4 linked regions of the Homo sapiens genome follow. The protein of the gene in region 1 interacts with the protein of each later gene in a biochemical or structural test. Each region holds a gene or a part of one and is shown on either strand. Other genes may lie near its edges. The genes, in order: RNF14, UBE2E2, UBE2E3 and UBE2E1.

Region 1 (7,251 bases):
CTCAGGTGGTCCACCTGCCTCGGCCTCCCAAAGGGCTGGGATAACAGGCATGAGCCACCACGCCTGGCCTGAAACCTCTAATTTTTTTTAAAAAAAAACAATGTTTCAGAGGCCCACATGATAATAGACTTTTAAGATCTACATGATGAGCAAATACACAATGACAAGAGACCAGCAAGAAGTCAGGGACACTTCTGTACTGGGGTAGGGCTCATTAAGGTTCAGTTTTATCCAAAAGTTGGGCAGGGTTTTCCTCTCCACACTGCTGCCCCTCTGTGTTCAAGGGCTTGTTGCAGGAGTGCTTGCGAGTGGTGGCCATGGAAAAGGAGGCAGTCCCCCCTGGGATGGTGGGATGAGTTCAGCAAAGTTTCGGGACAGCTACCAGATGCCAGTGATGGATGGGAACAAATGCAGGCACCGTCAGGTCTGCTAACCCCTATAGTGACAAGCCATAGTTTGTGACTCACTTCTACTCTCCACTCCGTGGCCTGGGTCCCGACCTCTGGTCTAGGTGGTACACTGTAACCTCTCCTCTCCCTAGGCTCCGTCATCATCCGGTGTCCCTGGGGACAGGGGGTGGGAGTTGGGTCTCTTTCTCTGTCTGTGTTCTCATTCTCACCTATCCTTAAGTCATAAACTCGAATCCTAACTTCCCCAGGGCCTTCCCGTTTAGTTCTTAAGGCCAGAACTATTTTACTCTCTGTGAATTTGTTACAAAAAACCCTTATTCTCTGACAGGCTCCTGGAGAGAGTCAGACTGATGAGGAATCGGCTCTAACCCTGGCTCCACCACTGTGTGATACTGGCCAAACCTTAGTGCCTCCATCATCTTTAGCAAACTAGCACAGGAACAGAAAACCAAATACCACATATTCTCACTTGTAAGTGGAAGCTAAATGATGAGAACACATGGTCACAAAGTGGGGAACAACACACACTGGGGCCTACCTACTACAGGGTAGAGGATGAGAGGATGAGAGGAGGGAGAGGATCAGGAAGAATAAAAAGTACTAGACTTAATATTTCGTCACTGGGTGACGAAATAATCTGTACAACAAACCCCCGTGACACGAGTTTACCTACATAACAAACCTGCACATGTACCCATGAACTTAAAAGTTAAAAAAAAAAAAAAAAAGTGGCCCAGGCGCCGTGGCTCACATCTGTAGTCGCGGCACTTTGGGAAGCCAAAGCGGGTGGATCACTTGAGCCCAGGAGTTCAAGACCAGCCTGGGCAACATGGTGAAACCCCATCCCTACTAAAAATACAAAAATTAGCCAGATGTGGTGGTGTGCACCTGGAATCCCAGCTACTCAGGAGGCTGAGGCACGAGAATCGCTTGAACCCTCTACCGGGAGGCAGAGGTTGCCGTGAGCTGAGATTGTGCCACTGCACTCTAGCCTGGGTGACAGAGTGAGACTCGGTCTCAAAAACAAAACAAAACCCCAAAGTATAATACACCTGACTTCAACTTTATGACATTGCTGTCTTTTATTACATCTTTTTATATTAAAAATAAATAAAAATGTCATAAATAGTAATTGTGTAAATATAAAAGGCCTTATTAAAAAAACAAATCTTAGTGCCTCAGTTTTCTCTTCTGTCAAGTGGGCACATAAAATTACCTAAGTCATAGGGTCCTGGGCATTTAAATGAGAGAATGTACGTGAAATATTTAGCACAGTGGAGGGCTAGGCACACGGGGAGACTGCAGTTTAAAAGACTAACCAGGCACATGAGACCAAAGACACAAAAGTCTGTTATTTTCCTAGAGTCAAAAACAAAACTTATTAGAAGGCTGTCTTTACCCAATCTTGTCCTCAAAATTGACTCTAAATCTTTAGTTCACTTTAAACATTCAGTAAATTATTAACACTGCTTTGAAATTCTCTTTCTATTCTCTCTATCCTGTGACCTCTGACATGATGTCACAATTCACCTTCTGCTCTGACTTTGTGAGGATTTCCCAAGCTGGTTGGTGCATGGGCTTCCTCACTTTTTTCCTCACGAAGAGGTCTCTGGTCTCCCCTCTCTGAGCACTCTGAGGTAGGGTTGCTGTGTGTTTTGCTCTTGGTCTAATTCCTTTGGCTAAACATGAATAATTATATTAATGAATGGCTTTGGAGATTCTTCTTCCGTCCTTTGCATTTTTCCGAGATATGTTTCTGGTTTTGGTATCTATTAGAAGGGTATTTTGGTTTCTGTTTTGTGACAATCAAGATTTATAGTACAGAAAATTAGAAGTGATTATTTCTATTTCAAGGTTCTTTCTGTGGCAGCCAGGTAATCCCTTGGGTGCCCTGATTTACTCACTTGGTTTTTTTCTCTCTCCTGGGTATAAGACCAACTACATAATTTACAAAGCCCAGGGCAAAATAAAAATGCAGCCTCTCATTCAGAAATTATTAAGAACTTCAAGAGGGTGAGAGCACAGCATCAAATCAAGAGCAGGGCACTTCTTTTTTATTTTAATTTTTCCATAAGTTATTGGGGTACAGGTGGTATTTGATTACATGAGTAAGTTCTTTAATGGTGATTTGTGAGATTTTGGTGCACTCATCACTCGAGTAGTATACACTGCACCCTATTTGTAGTCTTTTATCCTTCGTCCCCCTCTCATCCTTCCCCCTAAGTCCCCAAAGTCCATTGTATCATTCTTAAGAGCAGGCCACTTCTAAATCTGGGGCCCTTCTAAGTGCAGGGCCCTATGTGACTGCACGGGTTGCTGGCCCATGAATCTAATCCTGCCCGGGAGGCAATGGTGGTAAAAGCTTTAGAATCCTGTAGGCTTGGGTTAGAGTCTTAGCTCTGCAAGTTACTCTTTTGGAGGAAGAAATATATGAAAAAGCGGACACAGGAGCTTATTAGATTGTGAGGAGCACATTAGTTTGATGGGTCCCAGGAGAAGGAGCCAACATTTCTGTATTCCACTTAAGCGCTGAGAACGGTGCTTTGTACCTAAAAAAATTTTTTAATTAAGACATAATTCACATGCAATAAAATTAACTCTTCAAAAGTATACAATCCAGTGGTTTCTAGTACACTCACAAAGTTATACAACTATCACTGCTCTCTAATTCCACAATATTTTCATCACCCAAGAAACACCATATCTATTAGCGGTATCTATTAGCAGTCACTTCCCATTCCCTCCTGCCTTAGTTTCTGGCAACCACTAAACTACTTTTTGTCTCTATGGATTTGCCTATTCTGGACATTTCATATAAATTAAAAACAATATATGGCTTTTTGTGTTTGACTTTTTTTTTTTTTTTTTTGAGACGGAGTCTCGCTGTTACCTAGGCTGGAGTGCAGTGACTCACTGTAACCTCTGTCTCCTGGGTTCAAATGATTCTCCTGCCTCAGCCTCCCTAGTAGCTGGGACTACAGGTGCCCGCCACCATGCCCGGCTTATTTTTTGTATTTTTAGTAGAGACGGGGTTTCACCATGTTGGTCAGGCTGGTCTCGATCTCCTGACCTCGTGATCCACCCGCCTCGGCTTCCCAAAGTGCTAGGATTACAGGCGTGAGCCACCGCACCCGGCCTTCTAAGGGTTTTATAGTTTTAGTTCTTACATTTAGGTCGTTGATCCATATTTAGTTAATTTTTGCATATGGTGTGAGGAAGGAAGTGTATAATTTTAATTCCTGCTTAGCCTGACGATAATCATGTGACCCTTGGTAAGTTCTTGCACCTAAGTCTCAATTTCCTTATTTGTAAAGTGAGAATAACAAATGGTAGCTAAATCATAAGATTACAGTGAAGATAGAAAATTTACGTAGAGCATTTATCACACTGCTTGAAGCATCCTAACTACTCGATAAATGCGGTCGGTGTTACAGTTATAACATGAGCGATGAATGCGTGCTTCCACAGTGGAGTGCCAGAAAGACCGGCAGCATTTCTGAGAAGGTAAACGGGAGGAAGTAGGCTTGCTTAGTCCACTTGGAGAAGCAGGTCTGGGATTGTTGTGAGAGTCTCTGCCCTAGGTAGACCACTGCCTCATGATCCCCTCTAGAGATTGGTAAAAATTCGAATTCTCGGGCCCCATCAGAACTACTGAAAAGAGCCTCCTGTGAGCACAGGGCTCGCAGTAAGTGGGGGTGACGGTGGTCGCGCCGGCAGCGCCGCCTTGGGCCTGCGGGAGGCGCCCGAGAGGCAGGGGCGACCACGGCGGCTGCGCAGAGTCCTCCCTATGCCGGCGGTCGCGCCAGCGGGATCCGCCTGGCTCAGCTGACAGCTCCCGAGAACGGAAGAGGCGGCGCGCCGGTTGAGCAGGGCGTCTCTAGGCCTGGTCGGCTGGCGGCGGTGAGTGGGCCCCAGGCAAGGGCGGAGGGCGGAACTTTGGGGTTCGGCACTGCCGGGCGGCCGGAAGGTACGGTGGGGATAGCTCTCTGGGCGCGCGAGGCAGAGAAGGGGACCGGGCTGGGACTGTACACTGGGCCTCAGTCCCTCAAATCCGGGACCGGGCGTCCGCAGCTCGGCTGGCCGGGACTCCCTTCGGGACGCTGAGGAGGAAGGGGAAGGTGTGGGCCCTGCTCCTTCGGGACGCCCCAGGCTGGCCAGCAGCTCACACATCCGCATTGCGCCCTCTGATCCCAGCGTTGGGGCGGATAGCTAGCGTTGGGCCTGCCCCTGTTTTGGGGCAGTCGCCCAAACGACGCCGCACGCCTAGTGGCGAGCTGAACCCAGACTAGGACACCCGAAGACCAAATGGATAGAGTGAGAAGGAAATGGGGGTTAGCAACCTGAATTGAGGTACTGGATTCCAAGTGACAGCTTCACAAGCTGAAATCTTGTAGGGTAGGTCATGAGGAACTGTTGAAACTGCTTGGAGTAGAAGTTCTTAGCCCTGGCTGCATATTGGAATCACCTGGAGAACTTGGAAAACTACTGAGGCCTGAATTAATTGTTCTAGGGTGTGGCCTGGGTATTGAGATTTTAAAAAACAGCTCCTCAGAAGATTCTAATGTGCAGTCAGATGGAGAACACTAACCTAAAACCATAAACTGCATGAATGAATCTCTCATCCCATTTGCAAATGTTTTAACAGGAAGAAACAAAAAGCTTAATTCAATTAGCACCATATACTCCCACCTAGTAAAATAAGACAATGTGAAAGGACCTAATACAGTACATAGTAGGTGCTCAATTAATGTAAATTGATTCTGAATCTCATTCTTATCTCATTTGGGAGTTACACATCCGAGAATCTGGTTTTTAATTATGGTTTTGTATATAGTATTTTTGCATATAATTTTAGGGTGTTGATAGGATTCTCCGTAGCCCATCTATAGACCACACTCCCTTTTCCCCTCACCCCAGTGAAGAAGCCTAGCTCTAAAGCATTTAGAATAAAACTTAAAAGTTTGTGTTTGTGTACTCTTGTTTTGTTTAAGTATTTTTCTGTTACCAAAATTAACCTTGAGTGCCACTGGCAGGCTTAATTCATGAACAAGAGAGGAAAAACTGGAGGGGAGTGGCAAATGAAGGAATACAAGAAGCAGAAGAGGAAAGGAGAAAAAAACAAAACAAAAAACAAACTGAAGAGATTGTTTGTTATGGGGCATGGTGTCCTGTACTTTCATATGACCTTGGTGTTCCTCCTTAGCTCCTCCCATAGCTGAGGGCAGACAGATAAAAAGTCCTCAGTCATTGCTGGGGACATGCAAATACTCCTTTAACCACATGGCTCAGTTAGCCTGCCCTAGGAGAGTAACATGCACTTGTAGATTAGGATTGGCTATATGTTAGGATATGTTTGACTTAAGCAGTGATCATGGAAATTCAGAATTTTAATTTGGAGAGGGTCCTAACACCATCTTTTGTATTTCTTTTCTGCAGATGGCAGGATTTTCATAATATATGTAGTATGAGTTCCACATCTTGGCCTCTTACCCAGCTTCAGCAGTCTCAGCTCCACCAGTTAGAGAATAAATGGGATTTGCATGAACTCCACTCTGAGCTGAAATACAGACTGCGGTGTTAATATCCTTTTCTTCTGATTGTTATTAACAGGTACTAACTGACCTCAAGTAGAACATGTAATTGTGTCTTAGATAGGGATGCAGCTTAAGCAGAGCCATGAACTAACATCTCCTAGAAAAAAAGTGTTTTTTGAAAATGAAATCATTTTTAATTTCATAGTATGACCTTTTAAAATGTAAAAAATCCTAACTTTTTACTTATGTACATTTTAATTAAAAATATTTTAGTTGTGAGGGAGGATATTTGCAAATGCAATTGTAGTTCAATATTTTAATTGACTGGTAGTTTTGTTTTATTAAAATGATTTTTGTAAATTCTCATTGCATATTTTTTTCACATTTAAATTATCTGAAATTGCTGTATCTTTCAGTTGATGCTATTTTAAAAAACATTGATTCATACTTTATTTTTTGAGACAAGGTCTTGCTCTGTCCCCCAGGCTGGAGTGCAGTGGTGCAAACACGGCTCACTGCAGCCTCAGCATCCAAGGCTCAAGCGATCCTCCTGCCACAGTCTCCTGAGTAGCTGGGACTACAGGCACACACCACCACACCTGGCTAATTTTTTATAGAGACAGGATCTTGCTATGTTGCCAAGGCTGATCTCAAACTGCTGGCCTCAAGTGATCCTCCTGCCTTGGCCTCCCAAAGTGCTGGGATTACGGGCATGAGCCACCATATCCAGCCAGTTCATACTTTAATTGTAGCTAATTTCTTTTTCTTTCTTTCTTTCTTTCTTTCTTTCTTTCTTTCTTTCTTTCTTTCCTTTCTTTCTTCTTTCTTTCTTTCCTTTTTTTTTTTTTTTTTTTTTTGGAGACAGAGTCTGTCTCTGTCACCCAGGCTGGAATGCAGTGGTGCAATCTCAGCTCACTGCAACCTCTGCCTCCTGGATTCTAGTGATTCTCTAGTCTCGTGCCTCAGCCACCGAGTAGCTGGGATTACATGCGTGTACCACAATGCCCGGCTAATTTTTTTATTTTTAGTAGAGATGGGGTTTTGCTGTGTTGGCCAGGCTAGTCTTGAACTCTTGGCCTCAAGTGATCTGCCTGCCTTGGTCTCCCAAAGTGCTGGGATTAAAGACTTGAGCCACTGTGCCTGGGCCTTGTAGCTAAATTCTTAGTATTACCTAAAATAATGGTAAATCTTTCTTAAAATTATTATCTTTTAAATATTCTTGAGTCATAATGGTGAATCTTTAAATTGGTGACTGCTTGGATTTGACAAAATCTATTATTTCAAAAATTTAATATTATTTTGCTGCT
Region 2 (7,045 bases), on another chromosome or scaffold:
AATTCTCATTCTTGGATTTAATATTTTTTTTCACCTTCTTTCAGTTAAAATATATCAGAAGTTTAAAATCTTGTAAGTATGTACATAATGGCATATCAGATAGGGCGGCATGCATGAGAGTGAAAAAGAGAACAATCCTCAGGGAAAGGTGCTCAGATATAGCAAAATGCTGCCAGCAATACCTTAAGAAATGTGAAATGAGTGAGAAATCATTTTATACATTTTAAAACAGGAGCAATCCATTCCATGACAAATATATGGGTACCTCAATGAAATAATATTCTCTATACTGAGGATGCAGCTTCAGCGTAATAAACTATGATTTAATAAACTATGCTGAGAGTTTCAGTTGTGTATAACATTAGTTATAAAGCCACACATTCTTCTCAATATTCTTATTTATGTGCATTTACATACTATCGAATGCCATAGTTATATAATTACTTAAAAAGATTACTCAATGATGTGATCTGAGCCATAATCTGAAACTCAAATTTCTACTGCCGAATATTAGAGGAAGATTAAAATAAAAATTAGTCTCACCAGAGAACTAATAAAAATACTATTAGAAATTCCCCAACAGAGGTGTAATTTCTGGTTTCACATTAAGGAAAAGAATTATTCCCACTTTTGAGTTAAGACATATTTCATCCAAATGTTAACCTACAAATGATAAGTCCATCTGAGGCCATTGATAACCACTATAGGAACTTTTAGAAATAAAGTTTTCACATCTCTTTTTCAAATATCAATAATAAAAGGAATTTCTCCTGGGTTTGTTTTTTGAATGCTTGATTACAGAAAAAGTATAGAAAAAAATTATTGTACCACTCAGGTGCAACGAATTTTTATGAAGAAAAAGTAGTCTATGAATCAATTTAATTAGTCGTAAGTGTAAACTTGATGTCTTGTCTCTCTGAAGTACAAATGAATAAAAATTCCTGAATTAAAATCCTTTAAACATTATCTTCTAAATTAGCATTTTAAAATTAATTCCTAAATAGCTAATCTGATCCGATTATCTCATCTACAGGGAAGATAAACTTAAATCCCAGGGTTATAAACAAACAGCTACTCTCCAATGATACTTTCAAAGATATTGAGAGAGATAAATACGCTTACTTCATAACTCAAAGTAAAATTTAATTTTTAACCATAAAATAAGTAGTCCTTCCTAAAACTATATTAAGAGGCTTACATATTGTTACTTCTTCAACACAAACTGTCTAAGCTTGTATTAGCTATGTACCCTATGTTGTAATTACAGTCCTGGAAATTAGCAACATACAGTGAATGAAACTCACATGTTCCATAAAAATGAAATGATTTGGCTTGAAATATTACTGACTACATAAAGGCAACTATAGTCATTCCATAAATCCAGCCTACTACCCAGGTAAGCCTTATAACAGTATCTACTAGTATAAAACTGCAAAACCAAGTGTTCATTTAAGCTTTTATAACAGGAAAGCGTTTAATTCTGTCATATATGTCTTGCTGTCTTCCTACTCATGTTTCTAAACTTTTCTAAAATGTAAAATAAATATATAGTATATGCACACAGCAATATCCAGCTTTAAATTTAACTGCAAAGACATTTATGCAGAAAATAACAGTGGAACACCTGATTTGGGGGTAAAAGGTGCTGCAGGGGAAAGAGAATGGGGTATGGCATTATATGAAAACACTCTATTTCAGCGTCAGCCCACATACAGAATTCCAAAGAGCCAAGGAGCATCCAAATTGCCGTAGTAAAGGCAAATATTTAGATTCACAAAGTCCAGACTGAATTATCACATATCTAGAAACATACTTTTTAAAGAAATCAGGGATTAAAAACTAAGAAGAGCGTAAAATCCTTTAGAACCGCGAGATACTTTGAGGGTAAACCCTAGCACTTCCTTTCGTACTTTTAAATAAAAATATTTTAGTAGACTCTCAAGAATACACAATACAAAACGATGAATCTTGAAAACATGCAAATGGGTCTAACAGCCACCGAGCACAGGATGATGTCTTTCTAAAGCAGCCTTAATTTCCTTAAGGGAAGATGGATTGGACATTTCTGGTTGGTCGTGGGGGAAAAAAGCCACAAGAAGCCACGCTTTATCTTCATTAGAAATGGTAAAGGGCAAAAAGATCAAAACATTATGAGAGAGATCGGAGAAAAGAGGGGGAGAAGTGGGGTGGGCGGGAAGGGGGAGAGGACAGAGGGAATCCAGTTTCAAACCAGGCCAGTGGGGGCTGCAGAGAAGAGACCAGAGAAAAATGGGCTTCGGTTCCAAACTGTGACAAGCGCCAGGCATCACAAAAGACCAATACAACACACACCCCTCACCAGGACACACACAAATATACCCCACAAGGTCTTCTCCGGGCGGGCCACCGGGGTGCGGCGGCGAAGGAGCCAAACCCGGCACTCGCCAGGAGACACACCATGTGCAGCAATTATGCAATTAGGGAAAATAGCAAAAGATCAAGCCGGGCACTTTCCACCGTGACATTTATCCTGTACTTTTGAAAAGACTTAGTTCCAGGATGCGGCTAGGAGAAGGAAAGCGCTGGGAGGGTTGAGAAGGATGGGGAACTGAGAACGGAAGGGGGTAGAAGGAGGACAGGGAGAGAAGAGGCAGAAGGGGGGGATGGGAAGAAGGGGGAGGGGTAGAAAGGGCGAGAAACGGGGGCAGGAGGCTCGCGGGAGGGGGCGTAGGGAACCGGGCACGGGGAGCGAGGAAGGAGGGAACTAGGGCACGAGCGGTGTAAGCAGAGACCTGCGACGCGGAGGGGAGGTCGGGGGAGTGAGGAGGACGTCAGCGAGAGGGAGGACGCCCGAGGAGGGGAGGCACCGGCGCGGCCCGAGCGAATACCTGAGGGGGGGGTGTCCGTGCAGGTCGCAGGCTCGAGCCGAAGCCCTGGGAGAGAGCTGCCCAGGCGCGAGGGGGAGGGAGACTGGGGAGGCCCCAGGGACGGGATGTCCCCTGCGGACCGTCTAGTCACCGAAAGCCGGACCCACGCACCACGCACCCGACCACGCCTGTCCCCGCCGCGCTCGCGCCCGCCCGGACTCACCCTCAGCGCCGCCGCTGCCGCCGCCCCCGGCCGTTCCAGCTCCGGCTCCTGAGGCTGCTGCCCGCGGCTGTCGCTGTGGCTGCCCCTGAGTCCTGGAAAGTGAAGCCACCACCTCCGGGAGCCGCCGCCGCCCGGCCGTCCGCGCGCGCACCCGCGAGTGCGCGTGCCTGCGCGCCCGCCCGGGAGAGACCGCGAGAGCGCGAGCCCCACGTCGGCCATGCGGCGCCGCGCGCCTCCCTCCTCCCCCCGCCCCTCCTCCTCCGGCGCGCGGCCGCGAGGGGGCGGGGGCGGGAGCGCGCCCGGGCGGGCTGCCCCGCCGGTCGGGAGAGGGGGTGGGGAGGCGGCGAGGAAAAGTAAAGTGACAGCTGGGTCCCGCGCGCAGACTGGGCTCTGACGGGGGTGAGCGAGGGGCGTCCCACGGGGAAGGAACGACAAGGACGGGGAGAAGTGGGGGAAACCGAGGCTGACGGGGTGGCTTGAGGGGAGGGGACGCGAGGACCTTGCCGGGCACGCGCATTAAAGGGAAACGCCGGCTGGGGGTTAGGGGTTACCCCAAGACGGTGCAGGCAGTGGGACGAGGAGGCCTTTTACCCCCATCCACCGCAGCCCTTGACTTCACGCTCGCCTCGAAGCTTTCGCAAAGTAGATACGGGGACTGACCCTGTTGACACACTAACCCAAACTCGCAGACGCGTGGGGCTCGCATGTACCCAAGACAGGAAAACTTCACGTTGGCCTGGAAACTTCTTCCAGGCTAAGCCTGAGTCTTCACCAGACACTGCAGCACGAAGGCCCTTCTGCCTTTTGGCTCGCCCTGGCCCAGAATGCGCACCAGCCGGTAGAGAGGAGCTTCGGGCCGTTTAGCCCTGGGGTATTGAAGAGAGGGGTGGGGGTACAGGGTGCACCACTGTCAGAGTGAGTGGGAAGCTGCCTTCATGCCCAGTTGAAGGATATGGGAACAGTAGCAGTGCTGTAGGTGGCATGAGGGAACATTAGGTTCCGTTGTACTCCTCATCCCAAATAACCGTTTAAAAAAAAAAAAAAAACGTACCTGCTTTGCGAACTTAGCTTCCACGAAATTTCTCCCACTCCAACCTCCAGCCTCACTTACCAACGGAATGCTGGGTCGTTGGCAACGGGGTGTCCAGGGATGCAGCAAAATTAACTTCTATCTTTGTGGAGGAAAGGATTGGAAGATCTTTCACTGCTTAATTGCTGAAATTATGGTTGCTACAGTACTTCATTTGACTGTAGATGTTTTAACTGCTATTTACTAAGTTCAAAATGGGTTTAATACAAATCAGTTACCCTTTTCATTTATTCAAGGAATATTTATTGATACCAGGCACTGTCTAGGTGGTAGATATATGACATTGAATAAAAGAAAAAAATCCTTGTCCTCAGAACTTCCCTATGTCTGAACCTTCTCTGTTGTACACTCAGCATCACATTCGTCAGCAAATTCTGTTGACTCTGTTTTCACAAATATATGGTGAAAATGTCCACTCCGTCTCACTCCCCTCCCCACTGCTAATGTCCTGGTCTAAGGCATCATCTCTCAATAATTATCTCCTACCTGATCTTTCTACCTCCCACTCTCCGCCTCCTCCCTCCCCAACACCTACACACAGCCGACTGTCCTTTAAAACAAAGATTAGATTATGTCTCTCTTCTTCTCAAAAATTCCAGTGGCTTCCCATCATAGAGCAACAGCCAAAGTGCAAAATATGGATACATGGCCTGCATGATGTGCCCACCATTCCCAGCCAGGATTCCCCTGACCTCAAGCTGTACGATTTCACTCCATCCTCGTCTCCTTCCAGCCACACCGGCCTTGCAGTTATGGACACACCAAGCATTCCTCAGCCTCAAGACCTGTGTACTTACTATTTCCTATCTCTAGAACATTCTTTCCTCCCACTCCTCCCCCAGAACTTCCTATCCACATCCTCTGCTTTTTCTCCATGATCACCACCTGACATAATACATTTTTTTACTTATTTATTAGTTTCCCCCTTCTGCTTTCTTTTTCCTCCCTCTCCCAGCCCTCCCACGTAAAAGCACCTTGAGAAAAAGGATTTCGTCGTCTGGGGTTCAGTGCTGTATATATTCAATAGATAATGACCGAGTGAAAGAAATTGGTCTCTTTCAGTTGATGACACAATAGGTATTGTTTCTAATTTCTTCAATAATTAGTACTTACCGTGTTCTTAATTTGTGCTAGGCAGCATGCTAAGCACTTTAGTTATACTAGGTCACAACCACCACACAGGTTGGTTTTATCCAATCAGCCCCACTGTACAGATGAGAATACTGAGGTACGGAGGGATTAAGTCACTCACCTACAGTCACATAGCTAGTGAGGAGCAGAGCTGGGACTCGAAATCAGCAGTTTGGCTCTGGAGTCTGTGAACTTAAGGACACTTTACCATGAGTCTGGTGTTACAGACATAAATATTTATTTGATTTTCTCTATTTCTCTCTTCTGCGGTGCAAACTTGGTCTCCAAGACAAATAGCTCATCTTCCTTATATTTTCTGCTCTGGTCCATCAGTCTGTCGTCATGAACTCACTCCTTTCTTACATTTCTTATTTCTGATCATTAATTTAGAGCCTACGTTTTTTCCCCCTGCAACTGGCAAATTGGAATGTTTTTTGAAGGGTCCTTCTTAAAACGTTGTTACTGCCAACTTCGTGAGTAAGTAGAGCCACAGTTAGTTTTCCAGTTTGACTGGATGGGTGATAGAAAAGACCTCTCTCAGGGGAACTGGGCTGAATTTGAGCAGAAGCATTATACTGGTAGAGCCCTGCTACTTATTTAGGCAACTTCTGTTCTTGTTAGGCACCCAATTATCAGGGGTTATTACATATTTATATTATACCCTTTGAAAGAAACATCATATTAGCTCAGGTTTTCCAAAGAATGGGATAGAAAACAATGATCTGTTGCATACTGTCTGGCTTGAAGGAGGCTGTAGTCACCCCGAATGTTTTGGATACTTAAGGGCAACAGTGGTGTAGGAAAATTGAAACTCCAATAGAACTGCAACCCCATTACCTACCTAGTTCAGTACCAACGCAAAGGTACGACCAGGTGCTTTAAAAAAATGTTTGTTTCATAAATAAATAAATGAAATTCTAGCAGGGAATAGAAGTGTACTGAGGACAAATTCCCCTGACTTCCCCATTTGTTCAGGAACTGCTACCTGGACCACTATGTATGATCGTGTATTTTGTACACTGCAAAGTATCAGGGGGTGCCATTCATGTAAATTAAGATGCAAACATAGAAGTGTGGCTGCTCCTCTCACCCCTAGACGTTGCCTGAGTATGGTAATCAGTCTCTAAGATGTCCCACTGATCCCTGCCTCTTGGTATTCACACCCTTGTGTAATCCCCTCCTACGTCATGCTAGGGTTGGTGTAATGCTGTGAGAAAGGAGGGTATGTCACTTCCAAGATTAGTTTAGGGCTTCCATCTTGGTTGCGCACACACTGATGCTCTCTCTCTCTCTTTGCTGTCACTGACTCTGGGGAAAGCTAGCTGCCATATTGTGAGCAGCCCTGTGGAGAGGCCCATGTGACTAAAAAATAAGACCCGCTAACATCCACATGTGTAAGCTTTAAAGCAGATCCTTCAGCCTTAGCTAAGCCTTCAGATAATGAAGCCCTGATCAACATCTTAACTGCAAACTCTTGAAAGTCCTTGAGCCAGAAACACCCAGCTAAGCCACTCTGGAATCTGGAGATAATGTTTGTTATTTTCAGCCACTAAGTTTTAAGGGTAATTTGTTATGCATCAATAGATGATTACTACACCATGCTCTCTGCTCACTAATGATGAAGTTCCCCCTCAAGTTCTCCATGTATCAAGGAGGTTGCTGTCATGGTAGGTCTTCCAGGGAGAGGAGTCCCACTAACTCCTGAAATGGACTATTGCACCTAACTTCTCAGTAACTGCAAACATAGAGGCTTAA
Region 3 (7,897 bases), on another chromosome or scaffold:
AAGAGCACATTAACAGTTCTGACAATATTTTATCTGTCAAAAAAAAAGTTTAAAATTTACAAATATCTTTACTTGTGAAAAACTTTCAAAGACTACTTGACATTCTAATTTAACCATTTCTGTTTTCCCTGATTTTAGGTACAGCACTTAAATTTAATAAACATTGAGAGAAAGAGGAGAAAATACATAGGCCTGAGTTAAGGGGGAGAAAAGCAGTTCTCTGATTTGATTCAAATTTAAGATGATTTCAAAACTTTAGATGTGTCTAATATGTTCCGCATCAACACTATACCAAATTGAGAATTTTAAATTATGTCAAAGACTGCTGCCATTCAAAAATATTATCAAGTTATTAATACTTCATTACTGAGACAATAAGGGTGAAAATCCATAGAAAAATATGAGTATTTATGAATCACCACAGAATGCAATATTTGATCAGTTTTTATATTCTTTTTCCTTTAGTTATCAATAAAAATTAACAAAATGTCAAAATTGGTTAATGCTGTAAACATTATACATTTTATGTATAATTACTAGAGTTTGTGGATATTCCACTACTACTACCACTGATAAGAGTCTCATTGACAGAATCTTTTTTTCTCCATCAGAAAACATCAATCAATAGGAAACAAATGATCTTTCACTTACATCCAATTAAATATGTTTCTCCTGCTGTTGAGTATTAACTTGTCAAGCACATCCACAAGTTTCAGAGTGAAGAGGCCCAAGGACAATGCAAGTTTTCTATCACTAGTGACACCTCAAATTGTAAAGGGCTACTTTTCAGTTTGATTTGCCCTCACAAGCACAGGAAGGGATAATCATAATTTAACCAGGAAAGTTACCTGTGATATACGATTGAAAGTCATGTTTTGTAAAACTGTAAGCAGATTTGCAGCACAATTTTAAATCTGCTTTCAAATATAGCAAAGGCCTGAATTTGCAAATTTTCTAGCAAATATGATCATTTCTGATCATTAAGTTTCATGAAGAGAGGCACTGCTAATCTCTGGAAGTGTCAATTTCATTAAAGAAGATTATGACTCATAAAAGGAACATCCCCAAAGTACCATCTAATTTGGGTTCACCAAATTTTCCTTGCCAACTCCTTAAACAATCTGTCAGAATGTTAGTCTAATCTCTACTCAAGGACACTCTTAACTGAAGTTACCGAAGTACAGAATTAAGTTTGCTTAAAAGTATAATTCTAGTAATGTTGCTTACATACCACCTAAAGAATGACAACTCATTCAAGTACAATTAAACTGATAATGAAGTAAATATTTCTGAACTACTGCTATTGAGGTAAAACCAACAAAAGCGTCCAACCACCTGGAAGACAACCTGACAAAGTGTGCTGGATCCTTCTTTTACACATTACCTTTTAGCACTAGTGGATAACTTAGCAGTGGTTTTGCTAGAGAGTTTGGTGTTTTTCTTCTGCTGGGTGGCAGAAGGTTTTCTTTCCTCTTGTTCTTCAGGCTCTGGAGCGGCTGGGTCTCGCTGGTCCGCATCTGAACTGCCACTGCTGGTGCTGGGGCTCTCATCATCGGACCTTTGCCTATCACTGGACATCTTGGTGAAGTTATCTCTTGGAAAACTTTTAAAGAGAACAGGGGAGGAGGAGGAGAAAATGTTAAATCTAGGAAATAAACCAACAGCATTTTCTTCTAGTCATCTAAAATCGTCTTGTAATGAAAAAGCTTCAAAAGTGTTCACACTTATTTCATCGTACAACAGGGGTACGTACAAGGGAGGTGATGTGTCACACAACGCCAGCGTTAAGGGATTTGCCGAACTCAAGTTAGAAAACCCACTCACATTTTTTTCCGTCTCTTGGACAATCTATCAATTGTCTACTTTCTCAGAAGGCATGAAACAGATTTGCCAAGGAACTTAGGCAACAAGCATTAATAACATATGACACACTGTAAATAACAGATCTCGCTGAAAAATGTTTAAAAGTCACTAATAACGTCTAAATATTTACACACTGACATTGGTCAAAGCTACCAAATTCCCTTTCCGAGAGGAAAACACACCCTGTTAATCGCCCATATGCTTATTTAAGGTGGCGATTCCTCCTCAGTGCACGTAAAGCCTTTAAACACAACACTTGGAAATTTAAAAATCAACTAACGAGCTGCTCTAGCTGTTTCCACGGCCAGCAGCGAAGATTCATCCGGCCAAGACCGAGCTGCCACCCTGGGAAAAGCAGAATTCAAACTGCACCTTCTGCAAAGCTCCCAATGCCACCAAGGTTCCTCGCTCAATTTTTATATCACGGACCGACATTTTGTCCAAAATAACGAAAAAAATAAGAAACCCAGAGAAAAAACAAACAAATAAACAAAGCCCCAAGAAGTGCAACAAATTTCCGCGCCCGCGGAGGCGAGCCACGGCCGGCGGCGGCGGCCACGCAGCTCCGCGGCCCTTTGTGGGGAGGGCCGCGCGGGGGCCGCGGGTAGCGCTCGCCGCGCCGGGCGCCAAGTGATGCGAGCAGCCCAGCCGGCCCCGCCGCGGCTCGCGGACACCGGCGACGCGGGCGCCCGGCGCGAACAAAGCTGCCCGCCCCCGCCCCCTCCCCCACCGCCGCCGCCGCCCCGGCCGCCCCCCACGCGGCCCCCCGGCCCCGCCGCCTTACCTCGGCCGCCCGCCCGGCCCGCTCGCGCGCCGCTACGGTGTGGGGGAGGGAGAGAGAAAAAAACCCTTCCTTAAGGAAATGGAGGCAGCTGTGGGGGGGGGAAGGGGGGGGAGGGAAAAAAAGAAGCCGAGGAGGCTCTGGCCGGGGAGTGTGGAACATTGAAAGTCGGAGGGGGTTGTGCAGTGCCGGGCTCCGGCCGGAGGGTGGCGCCGCCCAGCGCCTTCGGAAAAAAGCGGGGGTGGGAGCTCGGCTGGGCGAGGGCGCGAGCTCCCGGCGAGGCGGAGGGGACGCGGGAGACCCCCGCGCGCTGTAGCCTCCCGCCGCCGCCGCCCGGCTCGGCTCCTCCCGGCCGCGCAGTCAGCAAGTTCCGAGGCGAGCGCGGGGGGGAGGGGCGGGCGCGGCGGCGACGCGCGTGCTCGCTGCTTGCCTGGCGGAGGGGCGCGCGCCGCCGACGCCCGGCGGGCGCGAGCTGTTCCCGCGCGCTCCCGTGCGCGCTCTCCACACCTCCCCTCACCCTGGGGGTGCACGCGTCCGCCCGCGCGCGGCCAGGACAAAGAGCGCGGCGGGGACCCGGCGGGCTGGCCCCTGCCGCCCTTGGCCGCGGAGCCTGTGCCAGAGAAGGCGGGGGCGCGGGCACCGTATCGCGGGGCCGCTGTGCCGCGGGGTGGCTTCCGGCCTGGGCCCGCCTCCGGGGCGAGGCTGCCCATTGGGCTACCCGCGTCCCCAGGGCTGGTTCCATCCCATCCGCCTGCGCGGGGGCCGTCGTGGCTCCCGGGGCCCCAGTACCTGGGCAAGGGCCCTGGGCGCGTGGTTGGGAGTCCCCCGCCGCCCCGGGAGACGGGAGACTAATGGGTGTTGTTGACGAGGCCAGGCACGCAGGCGGAGAAGAGCTGCCACTTGCCCCTCGCGTAAGCTGGAGGAAGGGACAAGTTGGGGTCCTGGGAATTGAAGAGGGTAGAATGTATTTGGAGATTAGGGGAACAACCTCTATTTCTTTTTGGCTCATAGCTTGCAACTGTCGCTGCCAAAGGGAAGTGTCCTTCGGATTATTTGAAACCTTAAAAATCCAAAACAGTGTTTAAAATGTCCCGCTCAACATTCTTAAAAGTGAAGGAGAAGAGTTTGGGGTTGGGGGGTGGCGATGAGAGCTAAAACATGACACTTTTCTGCGGGACTCTTCTGTCTTGCACATGAGGAGCCAGTTCTGGAAAGAAAAGTTCTGAGTGATGTTGAGTCAGAATGTCCACCCAGAAAAGCTTTAGGTGGAGATAGTGACAGTTTTGTTTGTTCTACCATTCTTTTTGCAGTCTCCAGGTGGACTCTGCGGTTTTTACCCCACGGCACAAAGTAGCCAGAATACAAAAACTTCCTGTTTGCCACCCAGGCCTTCTCCAGCTACTGAGAACTTGTTCCGGTGATGGAGCCTCAAAGGAATTTGTGGATTCCTCTCCCACAAGTGTCCAGGGGCAGGGGTGCTGTGAGAATGTGCAGTTCACAAAGGGAGTGAGAATGGCAGTCAAAAGATGTATAGAGTTAAGGGAAAGAAGAAAAGACTGAGTGAGCCAACGTATTTGCTTACTATTTCTCCTAATAGAAAACTTTTGGTAAAGGCTTGATAGCAACTCTAAAGAGTAAGTTACATTTCCATAATTTTCCAAAGACACAGTCATTCAGTTAACTTTATTGAGGGCTATATGTTGCTAGGTGCTGGACATACACTCATTCAATTGCTGTGTGACTAAAGCCAGGTCTCTACTCTGTGCTAAGAGCTCCTAGTCCAGAAGGGGAACAGTTCATTAAAGTTCGCTAGGTTCATAAGTAGTAAGGATATTCCACTCAGAATGAACAGATAGAATATCTCATGCCTCAAAAAAGATCATGGTCTGTGTGTGGACAAGCATTTTGATTTGGCTGGGTCAAAGAGTGCTTGTGGGAAAAGCTTGTTAGTGAAAATAAAAGCAGAATTTTCCCCCAGCTTTACACGATGTGATGTTACAGCAAAAGCCAGCCAATTTGGAGTTGAAGCTTTGCTTTGTTTGGAATGGGGAGACAGAAAAGGAAAGCTGTACGTTAAACATGGGTTCTTTTAGGAAATTTAAGAACAGAAATAGCCTGAAGGCCCAAAGGCCAATTGCTGATAGGATTTAGTGGGGTAAGGAGCTTAGGGGAGAAAGATATTTAGTTGTTTGGTAACATCTTCTACAGAAGAAATAGTATTGGGTTGAAAAGCCAGGGAAGTGTATTCTAATCCTCATTCTACGAAGTTCATATGACCTCAGGCAAGTTAAGTTATTTCAATTACTTTTATGTAAAAGGAGATTGTATCAAAGGTTCTAAGTCCTCTCCTGCTCAAAAATTCCATGATTCCGTGATTCTTTGGCGAACTTGAAGTCATGGAGTTTAACTTAACATTCACCCAACAGAATATTTAGGATCTACTAACTGCTTGGGAAACTGGAGTGAAACATGGGTCATGCTCTTAACCAAGCTCAATTGTGCAGTGGGGCAGCCAGAAACGTAGCCTGCAGAATGAGAAGTGCTGTATTAAAGAAGTAAAGAGAATGAGAAAAGAGCATTACTAATCATCAATTAACTAATAATGGAACTATTAATTCAGGTTGGAATTGTGGGGCATGAGGTAAAGGTCAAAGAAGGAAACATTAGATTGGTCCTGGAGAGAGCACTAGGGCCAGTGATAATGTAGATAATATAGATAATGCTCTTGGCAAAATACCTGGAATTTGGGTGTTCAACAAATAATACCTATTGTTAAAGTCACCGTAAAGATAATGAATGGCTCCATAAGGTTAGGGGCAGTAGTGCCCTGCCCCTACAATGTGAGGTGCCTGGCTGCCTTCATTCAGCTGACTCAAGGGGTTGCTCAAATGATTTCAGCTCACAGCTCCTCTCCCAGGTGACTTGGCATCACCTCCACCAGAAGTAACTTGTAAGGTGTAAATTGTTTCTAATGTTTAGTTCTTCCTTGTGTGACAACCTGTTTTGTAATTATTTTTTCTCTCTTGTTTTTGCTATGTCAATCCTTGAAATTAAGGATCATGTTTCACAGGCACTCTTGGAAGCATACAAATTTGACCTAATGCAATTATTTCATAAAATATAAAAAGGGCCCTTTTCCCATAAGGTCCCTCAGAATAGTTCCACAAGCAGACACCAGCTACCACAAAGAAGATTGTTTCCTCTCAGTCTCTTTTATTTTCTCTTGTTGGTGTGGGGTCCTGCCAGCCTCTCACAACCCTGAGAAGGGCAGTGGTAAGAGGGAAGATGCCGAATCCAATTGCAGTATTACAATGATTATCTCTTATCCCCTTATCCACCAAATGTTGTGACAAAAAGAGGCCTGCCTAAGGGCAAATAAGGCAGACCCCAGAATCCTTTGCACCTCCCTAGTTTGGGAGATGCTTTTTCCTGCGCCTTTCAATGAGTCTCAGTGTTATCTGTGTACATAACTGTGAGTATGTATAACTAAGAATTTCACAGGATCTATCACTGAGTTACCTAAGAAGTTTCTGAATTGAATGATTATGTAAGCTGGGGTATAGACCTCTACTTATCCACCATGACCAGCAGCATCCCTCACATGTAAAAAATGTAGAATAAATATGAATTTATTTTGTTGATTTTAAGGTACTTTGTTTCCTTCCAGTCAATAACTTTTCTAAGAGTCCCTTCATTTTTACTGGCTGTTTCTGATGCTTTCCAGTTACTTGTATCCTCAGTTCTCTGGCTAAGAAATTTTCTTTCTCTACCCATAAAGACTGGATTGGTTTACTAGGAAGGTATTTCTTGGCTCAGCCTTAGTTTACACAGCCTTGTTTGTCATTGTTAGTCCCAGTGTCTTTGGACCCCCAGAATCCAATGTGCCGCTTGACATCTGGGTGCACTTCCACTGCATCCTGAGGGGAAAACCTGCTGTGTCCTACACCAAGGGCTGGGCCCTGGAGTTGGAAAGGTGCATAAGCCTTGGTTTGACGTCAGATAACTCAGTGATTATTTTCTGTATTTCTCTTTTGAGATAACTCTCAGGGAAGGTATATACCAAAAAAGGCTCATGTCATGGTAAGGAGCCTGTACACATGAAACAAAACCGTGAGCACCTTAGTATGTCAAAAGGCAAAAATTTTTAAAGAAATATTTAACATTATAACAAAAATGTAGTCTTGCTAGTTATCCAGAAAGGAAAGTTGAAATGAAATATCTATCAAAATAACAAAAACAATTTTTAGTTATTATAATAATTCCTGGCAAATTGTTTTTTAAAAAATCCCTTTGTCCATTTCTAGTAGGAATGAAAATTGGTACATGTTTCGAAAAGGAATTTGGAAATTTTTTTCAGGAGCCTTAAATGTGGCCATACCCTTTGACCAGATTTCTCCATTTCAAAAGAAATGTACTTCAAGGAAACATTCTAAAAGTGAGAAAAATGATACTGAAAAACTGGAAATGTCCAACAATATGCAAATGATTACACATACTGATTCACCCACATAATTAAATTTGCCATTATTAAAATAACAGTTGTGAAAAGCAAGCTAAAATACAAAAACAGATTATTATAAAATACACTTAAGGTAGAAGTTTGTCTATTTTAGTTACTGGGAAATCAGAGCCTGCCTCAATACCTCTCAAGGTACCGAGCACAAAGTAAATCATCTATAAATATTTGTTGAATGAATATGCATCATATTTTTACAATAAGCAAAACAAAAATGTCTGAAAACAAAAGGTTGACCAGTACCTAGATTTTAGAGTGACTATGAATATGAACAACTTTATTTTCTTTTTACTATATTCAGTGTTTTTCTAGTTTAATGAGCAGGTACTACTTTTATGAGGGGAAAAAAGATGTGAATAAATGCAGGGGTGTAGATTTGGCAAAAATAAATGCTGTTTTGTTTTAACAGTTTTTTAAAATAAGTTCTTACATAAATTAAAAGAAATGATGAAAGTTCAAGCAAACTGTTTTAGAATTTGTCAGGACTTTAAATTTGATGTAAGAAAAAATAGGGAAACCAATTTTAAATACTGAAAAAAGTCACGTGAAGAGACTACACATTAAATAAAACAATAAGCTCTGGCTCAAGGACAGATAGATCACTGAAAAAAAGTAACCAAGAATTAGATCATTTAATTATGTAACAGATGAGATTTTACCTAAAACATACAGAAAAGAAGTATTATGCAATAAATGACTGAGATAACTAGTTACCAATATGGAAAAGGTCACTTAAA
Region 4 (6,212 bases), on another chromosome or scaffold:
ATAACTATTTTGACTGAAATGTAAAATAAGCTATTCAACAAAGAACATATTAAAACATCAAGTAATTTGTAACATCTTAAATGGAATACTTTTTTCATGAGCTCTAGTGAAGAACTACTACATATAAAAGACGATACTTACAAATCAGCTATTGCTGCTACAGTATAATTCTTCAAAATTTCTCATCATAAATTCATTTTTTGGTAAAAAAAAATTACCAGACACTAACTCACCCCCTTACCCTTTTCCCCCGGTTATTGAATATTAATCTAGCTTCCCACCCATGCATGTTACATAGATGGACAAATGCTTTCATAATGATTTTTAAATAAGTACCTTCCAGTTTGCTTTGTTTCCTACTAATGCAACTTAGTCTATATTAGTACAAACAGTTACCAATTCTTTTTAAATTCTGTAATGAATGTATGTGTATCCAGATAAGTTTCTCTGAAAGAGACATACAGAAACAGAACTGCTGGGTCAGGACATGTACTGCCAAAATGCCCCCTAAGGCAGGGTACCAATTTATCCATGACGGAACCCATTTCTCATGTACTTGCTACTACAGCATCTGCAAGTCAGAAAATGCTTTTAAAAAGATGCAGTAGGGTTCGTCTTTGAAGCCTAAATGGGGTAGATTATTTAACCTTTTCTAGGATACCTCATCTACAGCTGTGTAAAGTACAGATCCTAATATAGGTAACTAACTAATACCTACTAAATATGCATTATTTTTAGCTTGTTTTAGAAGCAGATACCTATCGATTTCAGAAGAATCTGCGAATGGCAACCAAAAGGCAAAAGAAAAGTAAATGAACACAGCAGTGTTTATTAGGTGGTTTTTAATATTGTTTATTAGCACAGTAACAAATGCAGACTTAAGTAGTCCACAACATAGAACCAATCCACTGAGCAACTCCTATTCCACGCCTTACAGTTAGTTAACAGCTTAAGGTATTTCACTACAGGTTTTCACAAGTCCTGATTCAGACCTTTTTTAAACAAAGTAGATTGGCATATAAAATAAAACGCACTACTCATCTCTTATATGGTGTTTTATAGCCACGTGTCCATTTTATATATATGAGATGACAATCTCTAAAAACTCTGTTAAATATCAATGTTCCCTTCCAAGAAGGGAAAACAAATTCCAATTTTGTTTTAAACAAAAAGTATGTAGTCTTAGAGGGACTTTACATAAATGGCCATATGTGTAACCTGTACCAAATTAAGCTGTTTTAAATTTACAGACTACAAGCAACTGAACCCAAATGTCTAAATGTACATTCTTTTCTGTACTACATTTCAGCTAATATTGCAGAACTAATGACAATTTTAAAAGTTGCTATTACCAATTCTGTCTACTGTAGCAAGATACCTTAAGTTACAACAAAATCTTAGGAAATAAGACTGAATAATATCTGTTATAGAAATACCCTACTCTTTACCAACTCCCACCCTCCCTGACCCCTTCAAAATCATAAGCAGCTCTCTTCTGTGACAGACAAATAATGTAAGAATTGTGAAACCCCAATTTATGTAGCGTATCTCTTGGTCCACTGTCTGGCCATTCTGTCATGTTCTGCTCTGTTGGTCATATACTGAGTGGCAATACTTCCCACCAAGGGGTCGGCTGGAAGAAAAGAATGTAGATTACTTTGGAGAAAGGAAAAGAACATTTTAAACTTTAGCGAATAGTGACAGCTTGGGTAGATACGTACGACAAAGTATGTGTGATCAAACCCATCTTCGAAACACCACTCCACCATGCTGGATATTTTTCCATCAAAATTTCAAAAAAACATAACGTTGGGGGAAGAGGGAATGCTTAGGCTTTAGTGTACTGGTCTGTCTTTATCTTAGTTCATTCCATTTTTCTCCCAACAAACAACACTCAATTGGAGTTTCTTTACTCTTATGTGTTAGGCTGAGTTCAGTAGAGACTGGAACGGTCAAGGCTTCAGACTGCAATGAACATCCAGCTGTGTTCATGTGACCCTTAGCTCAATGTCACCAGTTAACGGCATTGTGAATACTGTGAAGTCTTCGGGGCTGTTGCAGTGCAACACTATTAACCTTTACGCTGGTTAAAGAGCCAGGTTGCCAGGCAAAACCTGGACCTCCAATTAAGTATAGTATTTCTCTGAATCTTAGGATCTTTAATAAATTTATATTTGGTTTACCTAGAAAATATATTTGTCTGTGTGTGTGTATATATATACATATGTGTATATATATATATTTTTTGAGACAGGGTCTCGCTTTGCCACCCAGGCTGGAATGCAGTGCAGTGACATGCTCATGGCTCACTGCAGCTTTGACCTTCTGGGTTCAAACAATCCTGACACCTCAGCCACCCTAGTAGCTGTGACTACAGAAAAATATTTTTTAAATGAAATGAAGTCCCAAAAAAGTCACAATTCAATAGTCACTAAGTATTTAACAACTACCATTTTCAAAATTGAGTGCCATCTCAGTGACCAGCTATGGGACACATGCTCACTGAACCCCAGAGGCACAGGTGAGGCTTGCCAGGCAGATGACTCGACATTTAGAAGTGTCTGATTTGTTTTATAAGAACTCTATGGGAAATTAAGCAACAGGAAAAAAAAAGGAGGAAGAATAATTGAAACTAAAAGCCCAAGGCAAACTTACGTCAGTCTTCAGTTTAAAATACCTTGTTGCTAGAATATACTGATTAATGAAGTTGTGTGTCTCAACTAGTAGACTGAACTTGATTAAAACTTTCTTTTGAAAAGCCGATTAGTTTTTGTATTCACAAACTTGTGCAGAAAAATTAGTTTTGTCCTTTGAAAGCTTTTGGAAACAAGTATTTTTCAGGTAAGGAAGAATAAAACAAGGTAAAGAATTATGAACCTTACCAGGATTACAGTCTGTAAGAAGTGAGCAGATAGAAAGGAGGACTTTAGAAATGGTTAGTGCTGGACTCCAATTATCTTTCAATATGTCCAAGCAAATAACACCTTGACTGTTAATATTACAATGATAGATTCTTGTCCGAAATGTAACCTAAAAAAAACAAGTGACAGACAATATTTAAACAGCAAACAAACTTGTTACTAAATATTCAACTGAATGACCCTTAAGAAGGTGACTAAAAGCAGTTTTAATTAAAGCTGTCAAGAAGATAGACAATAAATTTGATTAGAAAGTGTTCATTGATACCATCTCAGGGACTGTGTCAATTTCATTTAAAATGTTATGTCCACTGACGGTAAGTTCAGTACTTCCTAATTTCATCTTTAGCAATTTTAAATCTTTTAAATATTAACATTTCCAAGTTTGAATAGCTAATTGTTTGCTGACCTCTTGTGTTAGCTGGTAGTACTACACTGCCTCAAAGTAAGCTTTAAAATACTGAGAATCATAAATACCTCTTAAAAACTGAAGTGCAACATAATGGGTACATAAAGATAATTAAACAACATACTTAGCAAACAATGACTACACCCAAAAGGCTGAACAAAATTTGAAGAGAAGTCTATTTCTGCTTTTTTCTGACCGTTACATCAGGTCCTATAGACATCCTGTCTACCTACATCACAGAATTTACTATTATATAATCGAGTGTCCATGGATGCAGAGCCAGTAATGGGCAAGGACCACAGCAGAACACAAGTCACATAAGCTGGTGTTATTTGGGTCTCTTAATTTTTATTTGTGAAATATACCAAAACACAAAGTAAAAATTACCTGTAATTTTACCAATTTTTTAAAAAAGTGACTTTCGATTACTTCTTGTTGCTGCAGTTGTACTTTTATCTGGCAGTCTACCTAATCCCCAAGACGGGGTTTTCTTTCTGACTGAATGAGAATCATAGATTGAGTACAGGAGATGGGTGACTTGGGCAATCCTCACCTGTCCTAGAAAGAAAACTGAGGCCTGGAGGTAAAGGAACAAGACCAAAACATGACAGGGAGCACAACAGAATCCAAAGCTTTGGGAAGAGATTCTGATTCTCTAGTTGTTTGGCCCCCTGACCTGCCCTGCCTTTTTTTGGGGTCTTGCTTTGTTGCCCAGACTGGACTCAAACTCTTGGGCTCAAACAATCCTCCCAAGTAGCTGGACTACAGGTGCACACCACTGCACCTGGCTTGACACCATTTTTAACCTCGAGAAAGGTTCAAAAACATTTCTCTATGGGCTGGAAAACAGGGGATTAATTCTAGGTTGCTGACAATATTACTATAAATAGCACAATTTTAAGCACCATCAAAACAAAGCACTTAATCCTAGAATGGTCTCTGCCAGATAAGGCAAAATCAACCTAAAGAAGTGTTTTGTATATGTTAAAATACTCAGATCTATTAGGACATAAGATAAATCTAGTTTCTGTGATTAAAAATTAAATTTAGAAAAACCTCAACAGTTGCTCTCTTGTGGGAATTAGTAAATTTGAGCATACAGGGAGATTTCTTACCTTTGGAGGCTTGAAGGGATATTCTGGTGTAAAAGTGATATCGAGAAAGAATACACCACCCTCATACACGGATCCTGGAGGCCCTAGAATGGTTGATCTCCATTCATAGATGTTATCGCCTTTGGGACCAGCACTGTGAATAATACGTCAACAAATAAGCAGATGGTGGCACTATCCCAATTTTTACAGTGTATTAAAAGAGATGGAAAGATTACCTCTCTCCTCTCTTTTGTTTACTGTGTGGATTCTCTTTACAAAACAAGTACAGAAACGGATGCAGAACTGCAACAAACCCATAGCCATTGGTCAAGCAAACTGGATGATAAAAGAATGTTAAAACCATTCTAAGCCTACCTAGCTACGAATAAGCAGGAAACTTTCCTCAATTCTCAAAACTCTCCTGGACACGTAGGAAAGTGTAAACAATACTTAAAATGGGAAACACATCTCAGCACCTAGAAGCGAAATTAGTGACAAATGCGAGCAGTTTTTGCTCACAGCTACATCACTTATGACCATTTTAAGCACAGAAGTTTCATTTTCTGACCCACTAACTGGCTCTTCCTTGCTCTTCTATCTCCATAATCTCACCTTTAAAAGAATCTAATAGATGGTTTATAATGTAAAAAGTATGTCCATGTTAGGTGGGAGGAGAATGGTAAGTATCCAGTTACAGGTTATTCAATTTTCATTTCAATGTGTATTCTATAATTGGGTTCTCTAAATACTAATACTTGAGACATTCCTCCAACCCTGTTAGCTGTTATCATAAATCACTGTTACATACACTTGGGTACACCATAATTTGGCCACAATACCATTCTAAAGCATTGTGTTGGCTTCTAGAGTGCCACCGCACCCAGCAAAACTACTCTTTTAAATAAATGTACGATGTGAATTGGATTTATTCACTCACTTACTGAATGCCCATGTACTAGGCAGAGGGTTAAATGTCAGGGGTTTTGATGCTGAACAAGACAAACTCCTTCAAGATGCCCTCTGCTAACTGGTTACAAAGTCTGATGCCTTCATTTAAGAGACAGAAGAGATGAAGAGGGAGGGAATAAAAAGCCTACCCATGGGCCTATACTTTCCCCAAACCCATCACAGGTTTTTCTTTTGGTCTGAAATTTGGTGTGAGAGATGCAACAGGTTAGGGGAATGAGCTTATTACAAAGGAAAAGCAGAGGAGAATACAAGTTGGGGAAGAAAACATGACATGGCAAAAAAGGAGGGAGAAAATATGGGCAACCGAATAGCGGGTAATGGGAAGAACAGGGCCCAAACTGGCCAAGAGGCAGAAAGAGCTCGGACACTGTCCACCTCACAGGAATGTTTTCAGAATTAAGTGAGAGAAAGAAGGAAACTGTAGAGCAACACACCCATGGGTATCTCTCATTAAACGGCAGTGATCACCATTATTATTAATTCTTTAATATCTCTTTGTGATGGGTATTACCAAAAACTATTAAAAACTTGTTTTATTTTTTATTTTTGAAACAGAGTCTTGATCTGCTACCCAGGCTGGAATGCAGTGAGTGGCATGATCTCGGGTCACTGTAGCCTTGACTTCTAGGCTCAAGTGATCCTCCCACCTTAGCCACCTGAGTAGCCGAGACTACAGGCATGCACCACCATACCTGGCTAATGTTTTCTATTTAATTTGTGTAGATGGGGGTCTCTCTATGTTGCCCAGGCTGGTCTTGAACTCCTGGGCTCAAGCAATCCTCCTACCTCAGCCTCCCAGAGTGCTGGGATTATAAGTGTAAG

What was found.
Region 2: the proteins of RNF14 (region 1) and UBE2E2 form a complex in vitro, tested with the Homo sapiens proteins (2 studies listed by BioGRID).
Region 3: the proteins of RNF14 (region 1) and UBE2E3 form a complex in vitro, tested with the Homo sapiens proteins (2 studies listed by BioGRID).
Region 4: the proteins of RNF14 (region 1) and UBE2E1 form a complex in vitro, tested with the Homo sapiens proteins (3 studies listed by BioGRID, with this or other methods).

Annotation. Positions count from the first base shown.
Region 1 is NC_000005.10:141,964,858-141,972,108, forward strand, and holds the start of RNF14 (E3 ubiquitin-protein ligase RNF14), read left to right. Parts: upstream 1-4,247; 5' UTR 4,248-4,310; exon of another isoform or gene 4,311-4,923; intron 4,924-5,846; 5' UTR 5,847-6,020; intron 6,021-7,251. UniProt on the Homo sapiens protein: E3 ubiquitin-protein ligase that plays a key role in the RNF14-RNF25 translation quality control pathway, a pathway that takes place when a ribosome has stalled during translation, and which promotes ubiquitination and degradation of translation factors on stalled ribosomes.
Region 2 is NC_000003.12:23,199,287-23,206,331, reverse strand, and holds the start of UBE2E2 (ubiquitin-conjugating enzyme E2 E2), read right to left. Parts: upstream 3,006-7,045; 5' UTR 2,868-3,005; intron 1-2,867.
Region 3 is NC_000002.12:180,975,724-180,983,620, reverse strand, and holds the start of UBE2E3 (ubiquitin-conjugating enzyme E2 E3), read right to left. Parts: upstream 3,017-7,897; 5' UTR 2,648-3,016; exon of another isoform or gene 2,609-2,647; intron 2,564-2,608; exon of another isoform or gene 2,144-2,563; intron 1,604-2,143; 5' UTR 1,579-1,603; coding exon 1,385-1,578; intron 1-1,384. UniProt on the Homo sapiens protein: Accepts ubiquitin from the E1 complex and catalyzes its covalent attachment to other proteins. In vitro catalyzes 'Lys-11'- and 'Lys-48'-, as well as 'Lys-63'-linked polyubiquitination.
Region 4 is NC_000003.12:23,885,930-23,892,141, reverse strand, and holds the end of UBE2E1 (ubiquitin-conjugating enzyme E2 E1), read right to left. Parts: intron 4,576-6,212; coding exon 4,443-4,575; intron 3,031-4,442; coding exon 2,883-3,030; coding exon of another isoform or gene 2,764-2,882; exon of another isoform or gene 1,634-2,763; coding exon 1,536-1,633; 3' UTR 502-1,535; downstream 1-501. UniProt on the Homo sapiens protein: Accepts ubiquitin from the E1 complex and catalyzes its covalent attachment to other proteins. Catalyzes the covalent attachment of ISG15 to other proteins. Mediates the selective degradation of short-lived and abnormal proteins.